Homo sapiens: one gene and its partner. The protein of the gene in region 2 purifies or fractionates together with the protein of the main gene of each other region. This does not show direct contact. Each region holds a gene or a part of one and is shown on either strand. Other genes may lie near its edges.

The links.
Region 1: the proteins of C1GALT1 (region 2) and GDPD5 purify together in Homo sapiens (co-immunoprecipitation; one large-scale study listed by IntAct). This does not show direct contact.

Annotation. Positions count from the first base shown.
Region 1 is NC_000011.10:75,438,677-75,442,490, forward strand, and holds part of GDPD5 (glycerophosphodiester phosphodiesterase domain-containing protein 5), read right to left. Parts: coding exon 3,687-3,814; intron 3,128-3,686; coding exon 2,970-3,127; intron 2,635-2,969; coding exon 2,487-2,634; intron 1,286-2,486; coding exon 1,203-1,285; intron 1-1,202. UniProt on the Homo sapiens protein: Glycerophosphodiester phosphodiesterase that promotes neurite formation and drives spinal motor neuron differentiation.
Region 2 is NC_000007.14:7,185,516-7,189,329, reverse strand, and holds part of C1GALT1 (glycoprotein-N-acetylgalactosamine 3-beta-galactosyltransferase 1), read right to left. Parts: intron 1-3,814. UniProt on the Homo sapiens protein: Glycosyltransferase that generates the core 1 O-glycan Gal-beta1-3GalNAc-alpha1-Ser/Thr (T antigen), which is a precursor for many extended O-glycans in glycoproteins.

The DNA of each region.
Region 1 (3,814 bases), on a different chromosome or scaffold from region 2:
TCCTGGAAATTCATGTTGAAACCCAGAAGGACAGTGTCAGGCCAGGGTCTCTCGGCCAGGCATATCCAGAACAGGAAGCTCAGCCACTGTGGGGTCCTCTGAGGGGAATGAGGAAAAGGCTGTGTGTTGCGGGGAGCAAAGCAGGGATGGGTGTTAGAGATAGAATGTAAAGAAGAGAGAGAAAGAGATGGGAGAGGCAGAGAAAGGTAAACAGGAAGAGTGAACAGTGGGAGAGGCAGAGCCAGGGAGGGAGAAGATGGGAAGAGAGAGGCAGAAACTTGGTAGGGTCTGCCCTGGGCAAGTGGTGAAGGCCCCTGTAAGTGCCAGAGGCAGGGGGATGGGGGTACCCAGGCAGGGTCCCCTCCCCCAGGGAGACACTTTGGTGCAGAGAGGGGCCAGGTCAGGAAGCTGTCAAGGAAACGCTGGTCCCCACCTGCAGAAACGGCCGTGGGAACAGGGAGCAGAGGGACACACACGGCAGTGGGACGGGAGGAGCAGAAAAGAGGATTGCGGGGGTAAGGGAGGCTTCAGGCGAGCGCGCTGTCTGCGAGGTGGCCCGGGCACAGGGCTTGGTGCACGGTGGGTTTTTAGACAGAACTGGAGAAGGGATGGCAAGAGGGAGAAAGAGGAACAGAAGGAGGAGGAAGACCACACCAGAATTACCTGATCAAGTGATAGCTGTGAGATGCCAGAGTGCAGCAGAGAGAGGGGGAGGGGGAGAGAGGAGGGACATGCGCCGATCAGAGCAGGATGGGACAGAGAGAGAACATCAGTCAAGAATAAAATCCCAGCCCCTTGGTTCCTGGCTGGGTGGGGGCCCCAGGCTGGCCCTAGACCCTCCCTGGGACCAACCACACCTCCCCACTGCGAGCACACCCCAGCTATCTTGCTGAGGGCTGGTGGGAACCCATGCCCTGGCTAACAGATGAGCAGGCCAGCCCGGTGAGGAGCTGAAATTCACCTAAGCCCACATAGCCACCCAAGGCAGAGCTTGGCTCTGGGATCCCAGCTGCATGTTCATTCCAGAAGTCACCCAGCCTCTGTCTGAGGGAGGATGGGGCCACCGGAGTCCGTCCTTCTTCCCTGGTCAGGCCTGCTCCTGGCTGAGGCCCAGGGCTCAGGAGAGGGTTCACCTGGCTGGGGTGGGGGCTGGGCCTGCTGCAGGGTAGGGACAGCCACGGAAGTGGTCAGATCCTACTCACTTCTGGAGCACGAAGATGCCCACGATGAGGGTGAAGGAGACCAGGTCGGCAGTGACCCACATGAGACAGTACTCGTCCGGGGGCTGTGGACAGACGGCCCGAGGCCAACTTCCAGTCATGGCCAGTCCAGACTGAGGCTCCAGACTGAGGGTCCGTGGACCAAAGGACCCCACATGGCCACTGGGGAAGGGCAAGGGAGGACCCTGAGAGGGTCTGGGGGCTGAAGATGACATTTTGCAGGTGTAGGCTCCAGGCGCTGTGGGCCTGGGGGCCGGGGCGTGTGTGTGCACACGTGTGCACTCTCAGGGTAGGAGGGGACTGTATGGTGCTCAGGGCAGAGGGGTTGTGTGCTAGGCCTGCAGGGTCTGTGTGTCTAGGGTCCTCAAAGCAGGAGCCAGATACTGAAAGACAATGGCTTTGCCGCCCCCCGCTGCCGACTCTCATCCATCGGTCTCGACCCTTTCCCCAGGCTGCCTTCCCTTCACCCTCCTCTCCCATAGAACCATCCACAGCTTAGGTCTGATTCATTGGCACTGCATTCTCTCAGCCATAAGGATACCCTCCACCTGCCTTCTGCATGCTCAGGGTGACAGTGGAGCCACCACCTATCTGCAGGTGCCCAGTCAACCAGCTAAAATATTGCTTTATTTGCTGTTCTCTGAGCAGATTTTAATTGTTTCCTATTCTTTTTTATTTTTATTTTTTGAGACAGGATCTCACTTTGTCATCCAGGCTGGAGTGATCACAGCTCACTGCAGCTTTGACCTGCTGGGCTCAAGCAATCCTCCCACTTCAGCCTACCGAGTAGCTAGGACTACAGGCGTGTGCCACCTTGGCCAGCAAATTAATTAATTATTATTATTTTTTTTTGTAGAGACAGGGTTGCCCAGGTTAGTCTTGTACCCCTGGGCTCCAGTGATCATCCTGCCTCTGCTTCCCAAAATGCTGGGATTATAGGCGTGAGCCCCACGCCCGGTCAATGCTTCCTATTCCTGTCCTTGTTACCCTCCAAAGCAAAGAAACCCAAGCAGCTCTTTACTTCTTTAGAGCCCTTAGTGATGCTTTTCTCCCTGTGGATGAGGCCCAGGGTCCTCCCAGCACCTTAGTGCAGATCCCAGATGCCATGAAACCCTCATGCCTCAAGCCTGCACGCCCACCATGGACTCCCCACCATGCTAGAGACCTCCCAGGGACAGCTCCAAGCACAGAGCTTGCCGAGTGGTCAGGGCAGGCTATAGGCAGCTCCAGCACTGCCCCCCAGGGGCCCTCTGCCCCCCAACTCACCATGATCCAGAGGGGGGAAGGCACCTGGGACAGGGCGTGGGAGTTGTCAGAGGTGACGGATGGGACCCCCGCACACCACAGCAGGGAGAAGAGCCACGGTGCGTTGACTGTGTAGAGGTTCACACTCAGGTTCCAGGACGCGTAGTCCCTGTGGGGCAGGGGAGAGGCAGGTCAGCATGCGGACCCTGGCAGCTCCAGGCCCAGTGTCGGGGCTGGTAAAGCACGTCCTGTTCACGACCTCACAGCCATGCCCGGGGCAAGGAACATTGGCTCCAGAGGGCCAAGCTCCGGGACAAGCCCGGGTCTGCCCGACACGCTCACCCTCTTGTCTTTGAACCATGTGTGCCTGATTCCTCTGTGTGCCCATCCCTCTGCCCGACCGTGTGTGTGTGTGTGTGTGTGTGTGTTGGGGGGTGGTGGTGGCAGGACTGGGAGAGACTCAGTCCCACCCTCTCCTGGAGGAGCCCAGGGCAGGGCAGGCACCTGAGCTCCTGGCGGGACACCTGAGTGTAGCGCAGGTTCAGCCGCTGGATGTGGCCTCTCCGCAGGCTGGCGACTGCCTCCTTGGAGCCTGATGTCTGTTGGAAGCCGGGAGCCACCTTCCGCACCAGGGGCCTCTGCCTGCTAGGCAGCCACATGACCTGCAGGCAGAAGAGAGGCAGCCTCAGACTTCTCTTCTGCACGATGCGTAAGAGTACCTACTCCTCCTAGAGCACCTGTGGGGTTAAGAGACAGGACCTGGCAGGCGGTGAAAGCTTAGATGAAGTCATTAGCAGGGCAGGACTCAGTCCCAGCCAAGGCTGCAAAGTGCACTGGCAGCAACTCAGGAAACTTCGCTTCTGGCCTGCTGTCAGTACGGGAGGGAAAACCCAAACAGCCACTACTCTGCACATGGCCACTAGCACCTAGTGTGCCGTCCTAAACTGATGTCAGATTTCTCTGGTCCCAGATTATTACACCAAACGACAGGGCAACACTTCACTGAAATAACTTGACCGCCTGGACCTTTATACATTTTAAAGTGTTTTCTTGTTCCCCTCTTGTCCCATGATGACCCTGCCAGGGAAGTGAGCAGTGTGTGATCCCCATTTTACAAATGGGAAAGCTGAAGTCCGGAGTGCAACAGGGAAAGGCTATGCAGCAGCAGGGCTCTAGCCAGGCCAGGGCTCCCGGGGGCAGAGCTGCGTTGCAGGGCCTCACCTGGTGCTGGGGGAAGCCGGAGTGCAGCACGGCCTCCAGAGTCACGTTGATAAAACTGCTGCGGTAGGGGTGCTCCCGGGGCGGGTCACGCAGGTTGAGCAGCAGTGTGGCATTGCCCTTGGCCAGCT
Region 2 (3,814 bases):
ATTTTTAACTAATTATGCCTTGATATATCACTTCATGATCAGAAACTTATTTTACAGATATAATCATAGAAGTCAGCCAAGATGCTCGACAGCCATAACCATAAGACGTCTGTCTGTTGATGAGGAACCAGTTTTTTAAAAAAAAGATAGAGCCATAGCATAGAATAGTAGTAGCTGTTAAAAACAATGATCTACATGTGCTGATAGGGAAAATCTTTGTGCTTTTGACAAAGGTTACTTTTTATTGTTAATAAGGTATACTGGGTATTTTTTTAAACATCAGAAAATGTAAAGAAAACAAAAGGAACAAACCTAAACAAATGAAAGAAAATCATAGACAGAAAAGAGTAAATTTTCTTTACCATCTCTACCACTATCTCTCCCCAAAAGTAACTGCTTTCGTATCGTTGGGTAATGCCTATATCATCACATATGTATGTTCAGCTTTTAATTTACATCAGAGATCATGCTTATCGGTTAGTCTGCACTTTAATTTACCCCTTCACTTATTTTATCCATAACACAATGTCATTCATTTTAACAACTGTATAAGATAAAAGGTTTATTTTTTAAGACAATGTACCGAAATATTTTCTAGTATGATTTCACTTGGCTTTTTAAATGTTTCTGTATATATTTTAAAATCTGTTAAGATATATATACATATGATATTTAACAAGAGCTATCTCTGGGAACTAGCACTGGGTGGCATGAGCAAGGAAGGACAAATTTTTTTTTATTTTATAACCTTTTGATGTTTTAATTTTGCATCGGGTACACACATTACTTTTCTGATAAAAATTAAATAAAGGGAGGCAATTTTTATCTACAGAGTGAAATAATATGATAAAAATTAAAGTCCACTAATTTCTCCACACTTGTCAAACAAAATGATCTCTTGATCCTTTCAGACTTCTCCAAGTTTCAGATTCACATACACAAATGCCTGCTAAATACTTCCACCTGGACCATAGGCATCTCTAATTCAACACCTCCAAAGTGACTCATTACTTTCCTCTGCTCATTTTACCTTAATTACTGGTAATTACCTAAATTATTCACCAATGGGTTCCTATTTCACTCAGAGCCACAGGATTATCTAAACTACAAAGTACACAGATATTCTTAATGCTTCCCTTATCTTCACCCCAAATCCAATTACCAAGTCTTGCCAACATTACTTCCTAAATATTATTCTAATCCATTGTCTCCTCTCCATTTCTAGTATTTATCCTATTTCAGACTCTCCTCTCTCCCCACAGGCTATTACAATATCTAACCTCTCTGACTCAAGTGCTATCCCTCTTTAACTCATACCCCGTCACCAGAATGAGCTCTCTAAAATGAAAAGCTGACCATGTCACCCCATGAATCCTTTCACGGAACTCCACTGCCTACAAGACAAAAACTAAACATTTTTTATTAACATGATATATAAATAAAGGCTATGACCTAGAGCCTGTCCAGGTTTCCAGCCTCGTCTTTTGCTATTCTGTGCCTTATAATTTATGTCTGCTTCAGCAATCCTGAACTGTCTACAGTTACTGAAAGGTTCCCAATATGGTCAGCTCCTCTTCCTACTGTCTTCTCTGACTACAACACTTGCTTCCCACCAACCTCTGTAAATCCCATTAAACTAAGGTTTCTTAACCTTGGCGCTACTGACATTAAGAGCTGGATAACTCTCTGTTGTGGAAGCCGTCCGGTCCTCTGTAGGATATTTAGCCAGCATCCCTGGCCTTTACTCACTAGATGCCAGTAGTATTCCCCCTAGTTGTGACAAACAAAAATGTCTGTAGACATTGCTAAATGTTTCCAGGTAACAACCTCTCCACTAATTTGTTAAAACTGTTTCTCACATTTACATAAAAGATCTCCCCTGTCTCTACTAAAAATACAAAAAAAAAAAGAAATTAGCTGGGCATGGTGGCAGGTGCCTGTAGTCCCAGCTACTGGGGAGGCTGAGGCAGGAGAATGGCGTGAACCCAGGAGGCAGAGCTTGCAGTGAGCTGAGATCGCGCCACTGCACTCCAGCCTGGGCGACAGAGTGAGACTCCGTCTCAAAAAAAAAAAAATCTCAGGAAGAATAGAGATAAGACTACTTTTAACACTAATTGCCTTTGAGGAGGACAACTGGGTAACTGGAGTGGGATGAAAAAAACTTACTTTTCAAACCATTTACTGTGCGTTTTTAGTCTTGTACCTCTTCTGACTTCTCCACTGCTATCACCCTGGTCTGAGCAACCTCTCTGTCTTTTAACTACTCCAACAACATTCTAACCAACTTTCCCCTTCCTTTAGCCTTTGCTTCTTTGGCCCATTTTTACCAATAGCCACAATGATCCTTTTAAAACTGAAATCAGATCACATCACTCATTTGCTCAAAACCCTCCCGTCTTCCTAATCTTAGAGAGCCAAAACCTTACAAGGATCTACCCACAATCTGCATCCTACTCCACCCCTTTCTTTCTGATCTCTTCTCCCCAGTATTTGGTGTTTTTGTAGGTCAAAAATGAACAAACAGCAGCAATTTCATAGATTGAACCTAATACTAACTGCTTGTCATTCCTCAAACGTGCCAGGGTCTTCACACTTAACTGTTCTCTGCTAAGAACACGCACCCAGGTGCTCATATGGCTCACTCTCCAACTCCTTCAGGTCTTTACTTTTCAGGAGTCTTCACTGGCCACCCTATGCTTACCCACAGCACCTATTAATATCAAATATTATTTTACTTATTCATCTTGTTTACTGTCTCTTTTCCATCTTGATCAGTGGTTCTGAAACCTGAGTCTCCATCAGAATCATTTGGAAGGCTAGTTAAATAAAGAGTTCTGGGATGGAGCCTGAAAATTTCAATTTCTAACAACTTCCCAGGTGATGATGATGCTGCAGATCCAGGGACCACATTTTTAGAACCCGTGTTTCAGAATGTAAGCTCCATGAGGACAGAGATTTTTGCCTATCCACTGTTTTATCTCCAGGACCTGGCACATAGTAAGCACTTGCTGTGGTCTGAATGTTTGTCTCCTCCAAAACTCATGTTGAACCTTAATCACCACTGTGGCAGTATTGAGAGCTGGAGTCTTTAAATGGTGACTGGGTACTAAGGGTTCAGCCCTCATGAATGGGTTATCATGGGAAAGGAACTGGTAGCTTTACAAGAAAGAAAGAAAGAAAGAAAGAGTTCTGGGCTAGCATGCTCGGCCCCCTCACCATGTGGTGCCCTGTGCTATCCTCAGGACTCTGCAGAGTCCCTACCAGCAAATGCCCTCACCAGATGTGGCCCCCTGAACCAGGACTTTTCAGCCTTCCTAACTGTAAGGAATAAATTTCTTTTCTTTATAGATTATCCAGTTTCAGATATTCTGCTAGAGGCAACAGAAAACAGATTAAGACATCACTGATATATGTAAATAAATGTAAGTGTCCCATCCTGTTTCCACTATAGCCTCTGATTCAGTCTATAATGCTAAACATTTACTGAACGATGTAAAAGATAAACCGTGCAACTGTTACAGGTTAAACTGTGTCCCCACAAAAGATAGGTTGAAGTCCTAATTCCAGTACCTCTGCACGTGACCTTATTTCAAAATAGGGTCTTTGCAGATGTAATCAAGTTAAGATGAGGTGATTAGGGTGGATCTTAATCCAATACGACTAGTATCCTTGCAAGAAGTGGAGCACACCATCTGAAGACAGAGCCACACAGGGATTATGTTGTGATAACAGAGTCACAGACTGGAGTGACATAGCTGCAAGCCAAAAAATGCTAAGGATTGGCAGTAACACAACAAGCTAAGAGGCATGGAAC